3 linked regions of the Homo sapiens genome follow. The protein of the gene in region 3 interacts with the protein of the main gene of each other region in a pairwise test. Each region holds a gene or a part of one and is shown on either strand. Other genes may lie near its edges.

Region 1 (4,612 bases), on a different chromosome or scaffold from region 3:
ATACAGGTACCCCACGAAGTCTCAGTGCCAGAACATAAGCCCTGAAGTGGGCAGGGGAAATGTACGCTGGGACAAGGACCATCTCTGTGCCCCCTGCCTGGTCCCAGTAGGTATCAGGTCTTTCTGTGCAGCTCAGGGAGACCCTAAGTTAAGGGGCAGATTACCAATAAAGAACTGAATGAATTCATCCCCCCGGCCACCTCTCTACCCGTCCAGCCTGCCCAGACCCTCTCAGAGGAACGGGGTTGGGGACCGAAAGGACAGGGATGCCGCCTGCCCAGTGTTTCTGGGCCTCACGGTGCTCCGGCAGCAGAGCGCATGGTGCTAGCCATGGCCGGCTGCAGAGGACCCAGTGAGGAAAGCTCAGTCTATCCCTGGGCCCCAAACCCTCACCGGTTCCCCCTCACCTGGTGTTCAGACACCCCATGCTCTCCTGCAGCTCAGGGCAGGTGACCCCATCCCCAGTAATATTAATCATCACTAGAACTTTTTGAGAGCCTTGTACACATCAGGCATCATGCTGGGCATTTTATATATGATTTTATCCTCACAATAATTCTGTAGCCAAGCAGAATTGGTTCCATTTGACAGATGAAGAAATTGAGGCAGATTGCGTTAAGTGCTGTACCCTAAGGTGATATGCAGCTAATTAAATGGCAGATTTTAATCCAGGTCTGTCTCACTCTAAAGCCCTTTACATTATATGCTCTTTACATTATAAGGCCTTACCCACCCTATATTGGAGTTGGCCCCAATTCCAATATGTGTTCCAGATCGGACCTCCCTGAGGACAGCAACACTCTGTATCCTGGGTCACATTTGTGGCTGAGGCACGCCCTTAATTCCAAGGTGGGCTCCAAGGGTGAGACTTTCAGGCTCTGGGGCAGTCAGCGGGAGGAGGTATTTCTGGACAATGAAGACCCCATCAAATCACAGGCTGGTGGGCAGGGCAGAGGAGGCGCACCCCTGCCCCCCACTGGCCTGTCAGTTCAGCTCAGCGGTGTGGACTCCCAGCTTCTGAGCTGTGGGAATAGAGTCTGCACAACGCAGGGCCCCGAAGAGCTCTCACGGTTTCTTTGGCAGGTTCACTGGGTGTGGGGCACCGAGTGTCCTCCCCAGCCAGGGCAGAGCTGGTGGCAAGCCCAGGGCACTTCTCGCTGCTCTAGCCCAGGCAGCCCCTCCTCTGGGCCTGGGCGGAGAGGTTAATTTGGGGAATGGACACAAAGAGGGAGGATCGAAGAGTCAGAGCCTCAGGAATGCCCAGCCAGAGCAGTTCAGACATTGAGAGGAGAAGCTGGCTCTGAGGAAGATTTATTTGCTCTGAGGCTCTGCATCCCCCAGCCATCCCCCCAGAGCCTCTCCCTGTGGGGAACACAGGACACAGGCAGAGTCCTCCCCACAGCTTGCATCTGTCCCCTGAACAGGGCAACCTGGACGCCAGGCTGGATGGAGGGGAGAAGGCGATGCAGCCGCAATGGTAGTCTCCATGGTGTGTGAGGAGCCGGCACCTGCTCTCACACGATGCCATCAAAGCCCTGCAGGCCACACTTCTTGCCGGCCACCTGGCACCCGAATCTCAGTGCTTCCTGCACGCTCCTCCCTGGAGGAGGGGCAAGTAGCTAGGTCAGCCAGGTGTTTGGGGCAGGGACAGGTCCCAGTCCTTTTCCCCTCCTGCTGCCATACTCACCCTGGGAGAGGCTGAAGATGACGGAGGCATTGAAGGTGTCTCCAGCTCCCAGTGTATCCACCACGCGGGGTGGCGGGAAAGCATCCGAGTGGAGCAATTTGCCATCAGGGCCCAGGGCGTCGGCGCCCTCCTCAGCCCAGGCACAGACAAGCACAGCCCTGCAAGACGGCTCCACTCAGCTGGGTGTTAGCCCACCCCGTCCCCCCAGCCATCCTCCCAGCTCCAGGGCGGACTCCTGGAGTCCAGGCTCATCCTGTACCTTCTAAAGCCCCTTCCTGGCTTCCCCGGCTCACCCTTTCCTCACACGACCATACAAGCCCCTCAAGGCTTCCTCTGCTGACTGGAACCCCAAGTGCTTGGCCACATCTTTGCTGACAAACACCTGTGGGCAGTGGAAGAGAAGCTGGTGGTCACTTCTAACTCGTCATTCACCAACAGCAGCCTAGCGTTGCCCCCATTACAACACGACTCCCCCAACATGTCCACATAGATCCCCAACGTAGCATCTCACTGTCCCACGGGAACGTGGTTTTCTTTTTTCTTTATTTTTTGTGAAGATGGTCTCCCTGAGGCTGGTCTTGAACTCCTGGCCCCATATGATCTTCCTGCCTCAGCCTCCCAAAATTTCTGGGATTACAGGTGTGAGTCACTGCACCTGGCCAGAAGCATATTTTTATCGATGCTTATATATAATAGAATACAGCCTTGTAAATTGTAAAACAAAAGGCCTGGTCCGTTTGTTCTCTGATCAATGGATTGAAAACCCACAGAAAGCCTTGAGCGCCACCTTGGGGTGGAATCTACCACCGCCATGCTGGCTCCCTGGAGCAGTTTTGCTGGTTTTTCCCACAACTATGTCCTCTAGGTATGGTTTCTTCATCTGGAAAACAAAGAGGCTCCCTCAACACTACCTACACTTTAGAATCTCCAGAGAAAGTTTTGGTAAAAACAAAAAACAAAACACCGAAGCCTTGGCTCTACCCCTGCCAATCAAAAACAAGATGGTGGGGCTCAGGCACTGCAATCCTCCTGCCTCAGCCTCCTGAGTAGCTGGGACTATGGGTGCACACCACCATGCCAGGAATTTTTTTTTTTTTTTTTTGTATAGAGACAGGGTCTTGCAATCTTGAATGACTGGCTGAAGTGATCCTCCTGCATTGGCCTCCCAAGGTGCTGGGATTACAGGTATGAGTCACTGCTCTTGGCCTAATTTATTTTCATAGAGACAGGGGTCTTGCTATGTTGTCCAGGCTGGTCTTGGACTCCTGGCATCAAGCAATCCTCCTACCTCAGCTTCCCAAAGCTCTGGGATTACAAGTGTGAGCCACTACACTTGGCCTGCATTCATCTTTTTTAATATGCAGCCAAGGTTGAGGACAAGTCACAAGGTTGAGGACCTTGGCTGGATGGTCTCCAACCAACTTCTGCTATGATGCTGGGATTACTTCCCAAATTCCATTTACATCCAGCCTTTTCAAAAAGAGACTCATGCAAGTCTCCTTCCCACCCTTCCCTCACCCTAGCAGCCCCCACAACCTGCCAGACACCCCTGAGTTGGAAGAAACCTCAGAGAACAGTTGTGTGCCCTCATTCTGCAGAGGAAAAGACTGGGGAGCCCCAGAGAGGAGATGCTTCCACACAGGCTTGCCCTGTGGCTGTTTAAGCCCTACCCAAGCCCTCTGGGCATTCTTACACCTATGCACCCACCTGGGGTGGAGACATTCTACTCCTTGCTCACTGCTGAGGCCTGCACTGGAGCCCAAGGCTAGGGGTCTACTTCTTTGCTTTAACCCCCATCCCCCATCTTCAAACACCACCAAACCAGGAACCACTATTCCAATTGTGGTAGGCAGGATAAAAGGATTCTGGCTCCCTTTAAGAACCAAATTAGCTGGAAGTGGCAAAGAGAGGCTGAATGGGGCACCCACCACGTCTCCGTAGCCAAACAGCTGGAAGAGCTCCTCTCGTGGCTTCTCCACCTCCACGGACACCCGGATCTTCTGCTCTGGAGGCTGCCTGGTGTTGTGTGCGTCTATCCGCTGCAGCATCTTCACCTGCTCCGATGCGTTCCGGCCCTGGTACAGGACAGGGCAGCTCAGGACCGCTGGGCACTGCCTGGCCAATCTGCCTCATTCTTCCTGCCCCGCTGAAACTCTGGGTGAGGAGGGAGAGGGCCTCGGGGAGGCTGGGCTAGAACCCCATCCTAAATTACAACATTCAGAGCTGTCGTGGACTTTGAAGACCTTATCAACCAGCTACTCCATTCCACAGATGAGAAGACTAAAGAATAAAAGATACTGTGAAAGACCTACCATAGGTTAAATGATGGAGCTAGAACTCAGGACTTCTCAGGATTTCCTTCCACCCAGACTCCAAAACCTCTCTTGGAGTAAAGGCTCTAGTTCCCTTTATTTGGGAGCTGAGTCAGGCCCTGTCCTTCCTGCTTCCCCAGAGGTAATGGGTCAGGCCCTAAGCAGTCAGACATCCGCCAGAGGCAGAGTTGGAGGCAATGGGGCAGCCCGTAGCACAGAAAGCACAGGACTTTGCCTGGAGCCAGCTGTGCTTACGTTCTGCTGTGTGACCTTGAGTAAGTCATCTAATCTTTCTGGGCCTTAGTTTTCTCACCTGAAGACATAAGGAAAGATGGAGAGAGAATGAGGGGGTTGGGTTCATTTATCTCTAAGGTACTTCATGATTCAAAGAAACCAAGGAGGCAGAACATGTGGAGGAGGCTGGCAGGTTGAGCCCCTTGAAACACAGGTAAGGCAGGGCTTACCTCAATGTGGATCCACTTGAACTGGGTCAGATCAACCTTCTCAAAGTCTGTAGCAGACACATCTGGCAGGCTCCTAGGTCACAGGATGGAAAAGACAGAGAAGAAGGAGCATGATGGGGTCAGGCAGAGCCAGGATCTCTAACTGGCAG
Region 2 (7,722 bases), on a different chromosome or scaffold from region 3:
GAGACTTCTTACCAGAAAAATACTGGGAAAATTTTGGCTTTATTTGTAGATTAATGTGACAAATATAATCAAATAAACACATATATACACAAACATGTATACATGCATCTATACACACACAAACACACATACATATAATATCCCTCTATGGTCTCCCCAAAAATTTATACAAGACTATTAGGCCATAAAAAATATAACAAGATAGCACAAATTAAAATTATAGGAAGAGGCTAGGGGAAGGAGCAAGGATAGGGAAAGGGAAGATGTTGATCAAAGGGTACAAAGTTTTCATGACACTAGAAATAAGTTTTAGTGATCTATTACTGATGACCACATTTAATAATAAGGTATTATCTATTTCAAAGCCATTGAAGAACAGACTTTTAACGTTCTCACCACAAAAAAATAAGTTGATGAGGTGATGGATATGTTCATTAGCTTGACTGAATCTTTCTATAATGTATACATAGATCAAACCATCACACTCTAACCCATAAATTTACACAATTATTATTTGTCAATTAAAAATAATTTTTAAAAAAATTATAGGAAAACAGGCTTGAGACCTAAAAAAATAAAATAAAATAAATACATAAAGCTTAAAATGCATAAATTTTTAGGCCTATAAGCTTGCTATAGTGGGCCAGAAATTTGAAGCTGTCTTCTACTAGCCAAACTCAAATAACAAAACTTGAGTCATAATGTCCAAAATATTACAATATCTTACCTCTGCCAAAGAGATGAAACTATTCAGCAATGCCAACTATGTGATATTCATTTTGTAACTTATGAAAACATTCTATAAAATTATTCATCCAATATTAACTTGAATACGTGCAAAAAAGGACAGATATCCTTACATCACGTAAACCTGTTAGTATTCACCTGTGAGAACTGTTCAATTCTCTCATTCACATCAGGTAGCATCCATGTATCCTCACCCCGAAGTCGCTTAAGTTCTTTACGCCTTTCTTCTTTTTCAAAATTGGCTTTAGCCTACAACCAAAGAAAAAAAAAAGACAAACTGGCAATTGACCCAACTGGGTTTCACAAAAAAAGGAAAACAAAAACCTCTGTCATTTTTATACAAAAATATCCACTCATGAATGAATGTCTATTCCTTGCCAGGGATTTGCTTCTCCAGTGTAAAAAAATAAAAAAATAAATAAATAAACAAAACAAAGCAAAAATCTCTCCTTCTGCATTTCCAATCTCCAGTGATTTGAGTTACCAATCAGAGAGAATCCAGGGACTGAGTCCAGGCCCTCCCATCTCTCTAAGCTCCCTAGCTCAATATGACTTGGAATCCCTTTTCCCTTCACCATTCCCATGGCTACTGCCTTAAGACTTTTGCAACAGTTAGACCTCCACGCCTTCAATATGCAATGCCTGTAGCCCCAATACCCAGCCCCAAAAATGCCTCAGGAAGAATCATCTCTGTATAAAGAAAGGATCATATTGGTAATTTTTATCCATTCTTCAATGATAGTCAAACAAAGCAAGTTTTTCCTAGGAAATCGTTCCTGCCCTCTTTCTTTCCCTGTAACTCCAAAGCTCAGTTTGGTCCTTTTCAAATTCTATGCATATCTCTACTATAAGATTTATCTCAACTTACGAAACTTACTCCCTCCAAAAACTGCTGGAAATACCAAAGAGAAAAGAATGAATAATATATATATACCCACACACACACATTACATATGTTGAAATTACGAAACAATACCAACATTTCACCTACCCAAGACTAATCGCCCACTCTTCCCCTTTAAAACCTGGCTGTAGTCATTTTCTTTTTTTTTTTAATCAAATATAAAAATAATTTATTAAAGGTTTATATCAGAGAACTGCTGAAGCAACAAGAACTAGAAGAGTTAATATTCCAGAAAAGGGAAAATCATGGAGAGGTAGTCCAACATTCTGCAGCTAGCTTTTCCCTGGGTGCATATAATAATTCTTGGTGTAGGCAAGAAGATGAATACAATGGTTATATACCAAACAGAAAAATCGATATCAGAGAAAAGAGCAGGGCTTATGATGGACTCCAAAGAACAGGGTGAGAAAATTGGAGATTAAAGGAGAATGGGGCTGCTTCACCCTCAAATTATTTGCCAAATTTTGAAACTATGTCATTTTCCCTTTAGAGTCTCCTCTCCCTCTTCTCTGCTGGCTCCTTCTCATTTGCATTTAAACTTGTTTAAAACTCTTCCAACTTAAATAAAAACAAAAACCCTCACTGAATTCTCTGTTGCTCTCCAACTGCAACTTTTCTCTTTCATTGCCACACTTCTTACATATTGAATAGATTGTCAGATAATTCAGAAGCTTACTTTCTCCATTCTTTGTATGTTACCTCTATGTATCTGAAGTTTAGTGAGAAATACAATGTTTCGCGATCTTTTGTGACAGGCTAAATATACTGAGATTGGTGTTAACTTTTGTTTGGATTGGTAAGAGCTTACAGTAAGTCTGGAATTGATACCAATAGAGACAGGAGGAGGAAATGTCAAACTGAGTCTATTCAAGTGTGACTTGAATGTGTTTCCGAAAAAGGAAAATCTCATTTCAGATACAGCAGTAGCAATGACTGAGGCTGCGAGACATGCTGGCAGAGTCCTTACAAGCCGCAGGGGACCTACAAAGTGTGCAGTCCGAGTGATAGAAATGTAAAGAATGGGTAACTTAAAAGGTAAAGAAACTTGGAGAAAAAGCGACAGATCTGCCTGAAAAGAGAATTAGCAACTGGCACCTGCCAGAACATCTAAAAAATCGGTAGCTACAAAAGGGTTTACCGGCATTGCAAAGGGAGAACTCACCCAAATTAAGGTGAGATTCAGTACTGACGAGGTAAGGGAAGGGGTGAGTGGGCTAGCTTACGGGAACCCTCAACTCCCACAACAATAAATAACTACAAAAGCCCCAAAACAGAGGTACCTGGCGCAACACCTCGGCCCTGGCATTCCGGGTCTGTTCTTTCCGCTCTTCGATACTCTTCGCACTTTCAAATCTACCACTAGCAGCCGCCATACTTGTTGCCATCGTAAAGCTAAGAAGCCGCAAGAAAATTCTAGTTTACGACGGTCGTAATTTAACAAACAAACCGGGACTTCCGGACCCGAGGAAGGAGGAGCACGGCTCCACCAACAGGGCATGCGCACATCTGAGGTCGCTTAGGGCTCGGATTACCGCAGCCCAGATTTTAAAGACCCGAAGGGTGTTGGAGGGTTTAATTCTTTCAGGTGTTGGGTGCGATTGTGAGCAGGATTAATACCCGTATATATTTATTATGCACTTTTTACTATATTAACAGCTTTCTCACCAATTTCGTCTTAAAATCACCGGAGTAAGTTACAAGCTCTTGGAAGTTAAGTTGGTACCTCTCAAAAGTTTTCTGCGGAAGTACCCTTTGTCGCCAGAGCATCATTTCCCTGTGCTGGAGGAATGGGATAAAGGGAGGCTGCCAGAAAGGTAGTGGCAGCTGGCAGGAAGGACAGAATTGCCTTGAAGATTCAGTGTTTTGTTTTGGTGGATTTTACTTAATATATGAAACACTCATGTGAATTTTGCATTGCACTTCACAATTTACCCGTGCTTAACTTGTTAGAAGTTTACATTATATTTTTTCCTCTGACCCCATATTATTTACTCATACTTATCCATCCAAGCATTTTTCATTACAATGGACAGTTACTTATTTATTTCTGCGGAGATTTCTTTGTTTTGTTTTACGCATGTATCGCCCAAACATAAAACTTTTAAGTTCAGAAGAATAAGACATTCTAAGGTGATGAAGTGCTTTGAGAACATAAGACACTAAGCTTACATTTACAAGAAGAAGAAGGCTGGGGAATTAATTATAAACGATACCTTAAAGACGCTAAAAATAAGTAACATAAGCCAGGTTGAGGTAAATACTCTTTCTCTTCAGGTTTCATAAAATTTAATGTGTGTTTGCAAGAAGCTTTCCAAGAGTTTTTACATTCACTACCATTCTATGAGTCTGAATCTTGAACACACAATGCCTACTTGTTTGATATGCAATAGAAAGTATTCATTTTATTTTAAAATGTAATTTACTAATCGACCTTGTAATATTTAATCAACTGACTACATTGACTGATATTTGTCATAACTAGCATCAACGTCTTTTCAGATTCTCTTGGAATTCAGAAAAACATCCATTTCACTGTTTTGCATCAATTCAATAAAAATAAACTGTGATTATATTAGAAACGTGTGTGTTTTAATCAGTTCAGGCTGCTATAACAAAATATTATAGAATGGATGGCTTATAAATAACAAACAAGTATGTCTTACAGTTCTGGAGGCTGGATAAAATCAAGGTGTTGGGCTATTTGCTGTCTAGTGAAGGTGTGTCCTGGTTCCTAGAGGGCAGTATTTTTGCTGTGTCTCATATGGCGGAAAGGGAGAGGGATCTCTCTAGAACTTCTTTTATAGGAATTCATGAGGGTGCTGCTCTCATGACCTAATCACCTCCCAGAGTCCCTACCTCCATATACCAGCACATTGGGGATTAGATTTCAACATAAGAATTTTGGGGAAACAAACATTCGGTCTAGAGCAATGTGCAAAGTTATATGAAGAAAACTTTAAAATCTTGCATAAGCTCCCCAAAAAGACTAGAACGAATGGAGAGGTATACTATGTGCTTAAAGAAGAAAACATCATAAAAAATCATTTCTCAATTAATTTGTAAATACCATGCAATACAAATAAAACTGCCCAAAAAAAAGTTGGGGTTAGAGAGGGGAACTAGATATGTTAAAATAGAAAAAAGAAAAGAAAAGAAAAGAAAGAAAAAGCAGGTTATTTTGGCTAGGTTTGCATTTGGCCACACCTAATGCGAATCCAGTCACATGGCTTAATCAAATAAAGGATAACGTAACAAGGAGCCTAAAAGTAACTGGTCCAGGCTTGGTGCAATTGCTGAAGGAGCCAAATAGTTTATCCTTTTTCGCTTTGTTGCAGTCTGTGACTTTAGTATTTGTAGTCACAAGCAGGGTATCATATTCTTTCACATCTGTTCACGGCATCTGATAAACAAGAATAAAGAGAAAGGACAAAGGGTAAACGTTGTTAGCTAAGCTGGCCTCATTTTTTATTAGAAAAATGATGGCTTTTCCTAAAGCCTAGTTCAGTTTCTTTCATTTAAATCCTATGATCCAGAAATAGGTCAGATGATCACAATTAACTACAAAAGTTTCATGAAGATTGCAGGATAGTTGTGTTATAGAATGTCACTCAACTTGGGTTTGTCGGAGGTTCTTTTGTGATTAAATTCAAATTTGGCCTCTTAAGCAGGACGATCACAGAAGTGAGGCGGTCTTACTGCATCCTGTTGGGTAGCGCATGATTTCCATTTGTTCCATTACAGGTGATGTTAATTCTGATCATTTAAATAAACTGGCATCTGCAGAGCTTCTCTGCTGTAAAGTACCTCTTTTCCTTCTATAATAAGTATTTTGTGAAGTGGTTCTTTGAAACTATGTAGATCATGTACCAAATTTTCAAGTTATTTATTTTTATATAATACAGATTCATAATTTCTCAGTGGATTCCTGTTTTTGTTCAGTGGGATAAAAATTCGTTATCAGTATTTATTTTGATCCTCAAATTGGTCCAGGTTAGGCCAGTGAGAGCCCTTTCAAGCTGGTTCCTGTGTCCTTTAGACATGTACCCACATTCTTTATATATATATATATATATATATATATATATATATATATATATATATATATATATATACTTTAAGTTCTGGGGTACATGTACAGAATGTGCAGGTTTGTTACATAGGTATACACGTGGTATGGAGGTATGCTGCACCCATCAACCCGTCATCTACATTAGGTATTTCTCCTAATGCTATCCCTCCCCCAGCCCCTCACCCCCCAACAGGCCCTGGTGTGTGATGTTCCCTCTCTGTGTCCATGTGTTCTCATTGTTCAACTCCCACTTATGAGTACATGCGGTGTTTGGTTTTCTGTTCTTGTGTTAGTTTGCTGAGAATGATGGTTTCCAGCTTCATCCATGTCCCTGCAAAGGACATAAACTCATCCTTTTTATGGCTGCATAGTATTCCATGGTGTATATGTAACACATTTTCTTAAACCAGTCTATCATTGATGGGCATTCGGGTTGGTTCCAAGTCTTTGCTATTGTGAACAGTGCAGAGATAAACGTACGTGTGCATGTCTTTATAGTAGAATGATTTATAATCCTTTGGGTATATACCCAGTAATGGGATTGCTGGGACAAATGTTATTTCTGGTTCTAGATCCTTGAGGAATCACCACACTGTCTTCCACAATGGTTGAACTAGTTTACACTCCCACCAACAGTGTAAAAGCATTCCTATTTCTCTACATCCTCTCCAGCATCTGTTGTCTCCTGGCTTTTTAATGATCGCCATTCTAATTGGCATGAGATGGTATCTCATTGTGGTTTGATTGGCATTTCTCTAATGACCAGTGAAGATGAGCTTTTTTTCATATGTTTATTGGCTGCATAAATGTCTTCTTTTGAAAAGTGTCTGTTCATACCCTTAGCCCACTTTCTGATGGGGTTGTTTTTTTCTTGTAAATTTGTTGAAGTTCTTTGTAGATTCTGGATATTAGCCCTTTGTCAGATGAACAGATTGCAAAAATTTTCTCCCATTCTGTAGGTTGCCTGTTCACTGATGATAGTTTCTTTTGCTGTGCATAAGCTCTTTAGTTTAATTAGATCCCATTTGCCAATTTCGGCTTTTGTTGCCATTGCTTTTGGTGTTTTAGTCATGAAGTGTTTGCCCAAGCCTATGTCCTGAATGGTATTGCCTAGGTTTTCTTCTAGGGTTTTTATGGTTTTAGGTCTTACATTTAAGTCTTTAATCCATCTTGAGTTAATTTTTGTATAAGGTGTAAGGAAGGGGTCCAGTTTCAGTGTTCTGCATATGCCTAGCCAGTTTTCCCAACACCATTTATTAAATAGGGAATCCTTTCTCCATTTCTTGATTTTGTCAGGTTTGTCAAAGATCAGATGGTTGTGGATGTGTGGTGTTATTTCTGAGGCCTCTGTTCTGTTCCATTGGTCTATATATCTGTTTTGGTACTAGCACCATGTTGTTTTGGTTACTGTAGCCTTGTAGTATAGTTTGAAGTCAGGTAATGTGATGCCTCCAGCTTTGTTCTTTTTGCTTAGGATTGTCTTGGCTATGCAGGCTCTTTTTTTGTTCCATATGAAATTTAAAGTAGTTTTTTCTAATTCTGTGAAGAAAGTCAATGGTAACTTGATGGGGATAGCATTGCACCTATAAATTACTTTGGACAGTATGGTCATTTTTACAGTATTGATTCTTCCTATCCATGAGCATGGAATGTTTTTCCATTTGTTTGTGTCCTCTCTTATTTCCTTGAGCAGTGGTTTGTAGTTCTCCTTGAAGAGTTCCTTCACATCTCTTATAAGTTGTATTCCTAGGTATTTTATTCTCTTTGTAGCAATTGTGAATGGGAGTTCACTCATGATTTGGCTCTCTGTTTGTCTGTTATTGGTGTATAGGAATGCTTGTGATTTTTGCACATTGATTTTGTATCCTGAGACTTTGCTGAAGTTGCTTATCAGCTTAAGGAGATTTTGGGCTGAGACGGTGGGGTTTTCTAAATATACAATCATGTCATCTGCTAACAGAGACAATTTGACTTCCTCTCTTGCTATTAGAATACCCTTTAT
Region 3 (7,121 bases):
GAATGACACGATTCCAAATTTCCATTCCAGAGCTTCCCAGTTCTAATGATTTCCACCACAACATGCCTTGCAGTCACACTGCAACAGAAAATGAGATGATATTTATATGTGGCTAATAAAAAAACAATACTTTGACTCCCAAAAAAGGGTTATTATAAAAGAATGTGTGGTAGATTCCACTGGGATTTTGCTAAATAAAGCTATTTATGTTTTAGGTGATGAAAAATCACCTAAGTTTTAAAAGTATTTGCTTTGGGTCCTTTATTATGGAGTTTTATCCTTATTTGAGGTATCAAAAACCTACCCACTATGTAAGTCAGTATTAAGGTGGCTATTCAACCAAAGCACACAGACACTAACTCTCAGTGAAGCTTTTTGCCCAAGATCAATCTGCCAGAAGTTAGACTAACCCAGGCAACTGGGAGGTAGAAGCTATGAAAATTTAGTGTCCTGCTCTCAACTAAGAGGTCCACATTTTTCTATTCCACACCAAACAGTAAATGTGCAGTTGCCCAGACTCAAAGACTGCTTTACATCACAGTAAAGCACAACAGACCTTCCAGCTCTGCATCACACGCTTCCTCTTCCCACTCACATAATTAGTACTCCTTTCTCTCTCTCTCTCTTTTTTTTTTTTTTTTTGGTTTTAAAAAATGTGCCTGTTTCAAATTTGTATTTTTTTTTCAGATGTCTAATTTCAGTTATGTTCTTTCCCTCTCTGGTCTCTTCCTGCATTTCACATACCAGACAAATATTTAAAGGTCTGTAAAACCAGGCGAAGTTCCAAAATACTTCTAAATGAAATTGCCACAGGTGACAGAACAGGGAAAGAAGGCAAGACTGTAGGGCAAAGATTTGAATAAACTGGCTGGAAATGCATTGGAAAATCTATTTAAGTTGCTATAGCTGTGGATGAGGTTTCAATGAGGCATAAACATTCAAGTTACTGACAAAACCAGCATGATTTGTGATCACTCAAAATAGTCTACTTGTCATGGTGCATTGCTTTTTTTTATTAGTAAGTTGCTCTCTCTTCTTTAAAATTTTTTCTTTTTATTATTCAGGAAGTGAAAGCATTTAAGAAAACATTCAAAATTCTGAGAATACATGTAAGTGAAATATTTAATGTCTGTCATTCATAAAAGTTACATCATTTACATAGGGTTCATTTGTATATAATAAAAATTTCATCATAATGAAAAATTTTCTGGAAAGTATATGTTAGTTTGTTTAACATATGCTTTGGATATACGGCTAAATAGGAATAGCTAAAATTTTATTCTTCAAATATTCCCTTTAACAATTAAAAAAAACCTCATTCCTAAATATTTGTCTGTCTTTCCATTTGCTTTTTTGTTTGTAATAATCATATGTAATTGAACTATGCAAAGATTGGATCTTTTTATAGTTCAGAATATATTTGTATACATCAATAAATTTGTTCATTGCATAGCAAACATGTAAACTCACATAGGATCTATAAATTTTACCCTAGTAATCTAAAAAAGTTGCTGAAATTTTACACAATAGTTTATTCTAAGGTTTATTTTGTTGTAATTTGGGTTCACTTTGTTTTTTATTTTTAATACATGTGGCAATTGAATACAACAAATGAAAATAAGTCATGAAAAGGTAAAAACCAAGTAAGTAATTTTATCCTAGATTACCAGAATTTAATCTCACTATGCTGTTTGTATTTTTTCATTAGTATAACAAGTTGTAAATGTACTGTGCTGCCTCTTTAAGTGTTCAAAATTAATTTCAACAGCATGTGTTTAACATAAAGTTAACTATGTTTGCATCAAATAAATGTTTATTAATGAAAGCTATTTATCATACAAGAAACAGCAAAGATAAGTCATCATACAGAGGTGTACACTAGAGGTGACATATGTAAAAGTGCATGCAGAGATTTCTGTTTAAAAAGGAAGTGATAAACAATAATGCTAAAATTACTGGGGTTTGATCCCTATACTCTTAAATGGGTGATAGCTTTTCTTTGAATTTACAGTTGGAAAATGCCATTAACAGGACTAATACACATTAGCAAGCAGGTGAAATGAATGTTTTGGACTTTATTTTACAACTGTGCTTGACAAATGTGTGAAATTTTTTTCAATAATAATTTTTTTCAAATATGGGGTGGGCATATTACTGCCAGGTTGCTCTGGTTTTGTACATGGTTTATCTAATTTTGTTTAAACCACATAATTTTAGGCCTTCAGTTGTGTTAGACACCATAAAGAACACAAGTTTCGTTAACATTCAGTAAATGACATTTAAGTCTCTCTCTCTCTCTTTTTTTTTGGCTTAATAAATTTTTTAATGTATGATTATCATAACCTAATAGTGTCTTTGTCTTCACTGCAGTGGATTTCCGATCAAACTTTTCCCCTTCTTTTAATACTTTAGGGAATTTTCAAACGTCGGGATGTTTGGCTGTAATGCCCCAAGATTTGTTCTCCCTGAAAAAAATCATAGTGACAATTTATTAACTACAGAGCAACTTGGCTTTTAGGGGTCTGCAATTTCTATTTAGATTTACAAATATCCATTTGTGCTCAATAGACCTAACATGAAATCTTAATCATATTTAAGGTTTCGTTCCATGCAATTACTTTATATGCTAATTAGCCTTTTTATTCTAAAAATTGGACTGAGTCAAATCAGTGGGGCATTACTTTTGTTATAAGCAAATATATTCAAAGGTATTTCTAGGTTGAATTACACTGCCTGTGCAACAATGTGTAACATTTCATATGAATCAGAAGTTTGGAAGTCTAAAAACTATTTGTATGTTTAAATATTTCTAACAATGTTGTATTACCATTTGAAAAGCTTTTACATATAGATGCTGGAACACACTAGTACGGTTAAAACTTAAATAAAACTGATGGGAAAGAAAACTCCTTAGATTCAAAATGTTTTATTCACACAAATTTAATAGGATATATCACAATTGTTTGGTCCATAAATATTTAGGGGAAATAGTTTCTATACAATGCATTTATCAATAAACAAAGAAACATGGACAATTTTGCTAGACCACTTACTGTACTATAAACACGAAGCTCAATATATAAGATTATTGAATTTATCAACTATATTTGAAAGAGTGCACAACTGCTTTCTATGACATGTTTGTCCCCTCTAACAGGATACACCATAAAAAGAGTTTCAGAAATAAGAGGTAAAACAGTACAAAACTAGTGAGGTGTTAAAAGGGCTTAAAACAGTTAATTTAACAAACAACACATATATCCTGATTTTTCACAAACTTACTTCCAAGTTATATCATAAGGCACATAGGAGAACTGAGTTATAATTAGTCTACTTAATAAAGTAGATCTATATAGTACCATATATTGTTCTGTCAAAGAACAAAATTTATAAGTGTCAATATTTTACCTGTAAAAGTGTATTAATAAGATCTCAGCCTTACCAAGGTTGTTTGGTCTGGTTAGTGGTAAATGCCCAAAATGTAATAGAAGTATGAAAAGTCAAGATTTAAGCTCCATATAAGATGATAACCATACTTGCTAAATATATAATGGCAATCACACCTTTCTTCTGTTACAGTGTTAACTTATCTTCCATCATCTTTTTTTAAAAAATAAGCTACTTTCTGTGCTAATTTTCTAAAGACCCTGAGCAAAAGTTACAATAATGCACTTTAATGTGGGCAGTGAACTGTCAATATGTAACCACACATTTATACAGCCAGAAGGACACCTTTAAAATCTATTAAATAGCCACTTCGACCACCAAAGGAGATTTAAGGGGTCCAAAAAGTGGAAAATATGTGCAAAGTTATTCTTAACAATCCACTAAAGCAAGACATATATCTTGACTTCTTTTTTATTTTTTTAGGAAATCCACAATCTAATTGGTATTTAACTACAACAGAAGCGTAATAGATGAACATTCACCACTGCCCAGACCATTAAGATTTTAGCTTAAATTAAAAGAAAAAAATGCTACTGTAAACTAGGAAATATATTCAGATCAGCATCCACAAGGCTTCTGAGTTTATCTACTTTAAGACTAATAACTTCAAATCTCTAATATCAGAAAAATTATTTTCAATACATAAGTCAACCTATGTCAAAATAAAATAAAACAAAACAAAACCAATTGTTGGTATAAGTCTACCAGGCTGGGTATTTTAAACATTATTCATATAGAATGCCAGATACAATATCATGGTACAGCTGAAGCCAATTAATAGAGCTATTAATTAAATTATATTGATTTTTTTACTTCTTAAAACATTATATTTTGCTTATTTCCATTTTCCCTGGGAAAAAAAGTAACTAGAAAGAATGGTTTCCGAGCTATTGTTTTTAGCTTTAGGAGGTTAAAAGTATGGAATGTCAAAATCAATGCGGAATTTTCATGGATACATAGGGAGCTTAAGTATTTTTCAAATGTTGAAAAACAAATAACCAAGTAAAAAGTTTTTAGAGTTGTACACCCCTAAGAGAAGGAAAAGTCACATTCCTGTAATAGATTTCTCACCTAATTAATCATTACTATTTAAAATGTCTGTAGTTAATGCTTTTATTTCATCATATTCCTCACTTGAATTAACAGTTCAGGTAAGAAATAGAAATACTAAAAACAAGTTTTCAGTTTTAAGATTTAAAAAATGTAACGTTTTCAAAACTCCATAATCACACATACAATTGCAAGATTTAAAAAGTAACTAATTAATTATCTGGTTCTTTATTAACCTAATCATTTAAGTGGGAATATGATTATTTGCCCATAATAATACCACTCTTTTTTCTTTTTTCTTCGAGATTCTGGAAATAAGTAACATACAATTTTAAGAGGCACTTATTAGAATTATTCAAAAACTCTCCTTACCAACTGAAAGACCTAATTAATTTTTTTAAATCCAAATACACTTTGTAGACAAAATATATTCACTTAAAGGAGACAATACTGTAAACTCATTTGCCAAGTGGCTGCAGATGCTACACACCAAGCTGTTATTTTTATTCCCCAAATATCTTGTGGGTTAGAAGAAAAAAAAAGTCTTGTAAATAATAAAATAATAATAATTAGAATAATAATAAAAAGAAGAGGAAGAATTTAAAAACTAAAAAAAAAAAACCAATGTTAGAAAAGGTTTGTTAAGGTAGTTTGTGAGGGGCTTCCGGATTCGTGGCTGTCCATGTTAGAGGTCACGGATGTCACTACAGTGATAGTGGGATTGGTCAGGTCTGTTAAAGTGGTCGCAGTGCCGGGTGGAGTGAGAGCTCCGCTGTCTGCTGAGGGCGGGGCCGGAAGCGACGTGCCGTCAGCTTTATCAACACCCCCATTCTCCTGCCGCAAAAGGTTCCTTCTGAATTTGGCTCGTGCGTTTTGGAACCAAACCTGCAAACCAATCCCAATTGATTTCTTTACCGATGTTCATTTTTATATTTCTTTTCTTTCTCTCTCACTTTTTCTTTTTTTCTTTTTCTTTCTTTCTTTTTTTTTTTTGATATAGGTTTCTCCTTTTAAATATCATTGTTTGTCTTTCTTAGGAGGAAAGGGGCTTTTTTTTCTTTTCTTTTAAAACAGAGTTATTCAAGTAACACTACAGATTTATTATCTCTCAACTGCACTTATTCCACCCTGTAGCATTAACAAGTGCCACTTGGAACAACTGATGCTTAAGTGGATATACCATGGAAATGAACACATGGTGATAAAAAGGGGGAAATACACGGTGATTCCTCAACTGTTATCTTTTGAGAAGAGGTAGAAGCAGGGCCATTGAAAGTATGGCAAAGTAAGAATCACTCATATGAAATGGACATCACTGAAACAGACTTCAAGCCATTCGTGAGCCCAACACACGGTATATATTCTTCACATAGAAAAAACTCCCAGGGCCACAGACCTCGAACAGCCTGAAACTGTTTAGCAGAATTTAAAATGCCTGCTATTTGTCACCAAGAAGTGAGAGAAGATCACAGGTGACTCACAGCAACCTATCATAATTTCATTAGTTATATGTTCTTGCCATGATGAGTTTAGGAAATCAATTGGACAGCAGAACTAACTTCCAATATTTTGTTTCTAATTATGGTTTGTTAAGGCAGGAAAATACTTGCTCCAATTGGTTGCTGAAACACTAACCATACTTTTGGCTTTTCAGGAGTGGAAAAAAGGTTCCACCTGAATTTGGAAGGTGAGTGAGGCTGCCAAAAGTTTGCCGAGTTAAGGCAGTGCCAACAGGTCCCTCTCAAGTCCGTGCACTGAGCATAATATTAATGGAAATCGATAAAGCCACGGCCTGTGCAAATAACATCACTCGCATTTGCACAGCAGTGAGACAAGCTGTGCTGCCTTTGGAGGGCCCATCTCCACATATGTAGAGAGAATGTGGCTGTATTTAAAAAGACCCTGGGTCTCTGTTTGGGAACCCTCCAGGAAGCCCCTGCAAAATCTCAGAACACCCTCTAGGGAGATAGCTAAGATAAACTAGTAAGAAGCAATATAGGAAATATCTGCGTCACTCTAACCAGGGAAGAGCACTATTTTTACTGGGAAGGGGAAGGGAAATGTATGCACAGTCAATGATGCATGTGTCTTACCTGCAAAACTCTTTTGGTCAGACCTGTTTTCTGGGCAAGCTGCTTGAGGTCCTTGGCATCCGGGTTGTGGTTGATGGCAAAGTAGGATTTCATGGTCCGGAGCTGGTGATGCTTGAAAGAGGTTCGCATGCGCTTGGTCTTCTGCGAGGGTGGATAAGGCTGCTGGTCCCGGTCCAAGTGGTCTGCCTCATTCTCATTACAACCTGTTGCAGTAACAGTGAACAAACAACTGCTCAGTGGAAATTCTTGCATTAGCTGACATGATGGCAGGCTGTATGACACTGCTATGGTAATAAAGCAGCAGTGAAAAAGGTTGTCAACCCAATTATGAGTAGTATCTAGACAAAAAGAAAGAAGATAATTGCTAAAGTAAGCTGAACTCTTCTGTTAATGTAGACACAACCAAAGTTTATGCAATAGAAAAATATTGGTTAAATCCTCTCTTTTGTTTAATGGTTGCTAGAAGAATTTGAGAATATGAACAAACCCTAAGTAGTAAGGTGGGAGTGAGAGAGACCTACGAGAGTGAGA

The links.
Region 1: the proteins of LHX9 (region 3) and KHK interact in binary tests that used the Homo sapiens proteins (3 or more experiments, as listed by UniProt).
Region 2: the proteins of LHX9 (region 3) and CWF19L2 interact in binary tests that used the Homo sapiens proteins (3 or more experiments, as listed by UniProt).

What each region holds. Positions count from the first base shown.
Region 1 is NC_000002.12:27,096,653-27,101,264, reverse strand, and holds the end of KHK (ketohexokinase), read right to left. Parts: intron 4,537-4,612; coding exon 4,464-4,536; intron 3,763-4,463; coding exon 3,616-3,762; coding exon of another isoform or gene 3,202-3,615; exon of another isoform or gene 3,187-3,201; intron 2,070-3,186; coding exon 1,981-2,069; intron 1,913-1,980; exon of another isoform or gene 1,846-1,912; coding exon 1,688-1,845; exon of another isoform or gene 1,601-1,687; coding exon 1,515-1,600; 3' UTR 1,482-1,514; coding exon of another isoform or gene 1,425-1,481; 3' UTR 830-1,424; coding exon of another isoform or gene 723-829; 3' UTR 503-722; downstream 1-502. UniProt on the Homo sapiens protein: Catalyzes the phosphorylation of the ketose sugar fructose to fructose-1-phosphate.
Region 2 is NC_000011.10:107,454,781-107,462,502, forward strand, and holds the start of CWF19L2 (CWF19-like protein 2), read right to left. Parts: upstream 3,046-7,722; 5' UTR 3,037-3,045; coding exon 2,932-3,036; intron 997-2,931; coding exon 886-996; intron 1-885.
Region 3 is NC_000001.11:197,927,263-197,934,383, reverse strand, and holds part of LHX9 (LIM/homeobox protein Lhx9), read right to left. Parts: intron 6,794-7,121; coding exon 6,591-6,793; intron 5,383-6,590; coding exon 5,125-5,382; 3' UTR 2,466-5,124; coding exon of another isoform or gene 2,409-2,465; 3' UTR 1-2,408. UniProt on the Homo sapiens protein: Involved in gonadal development.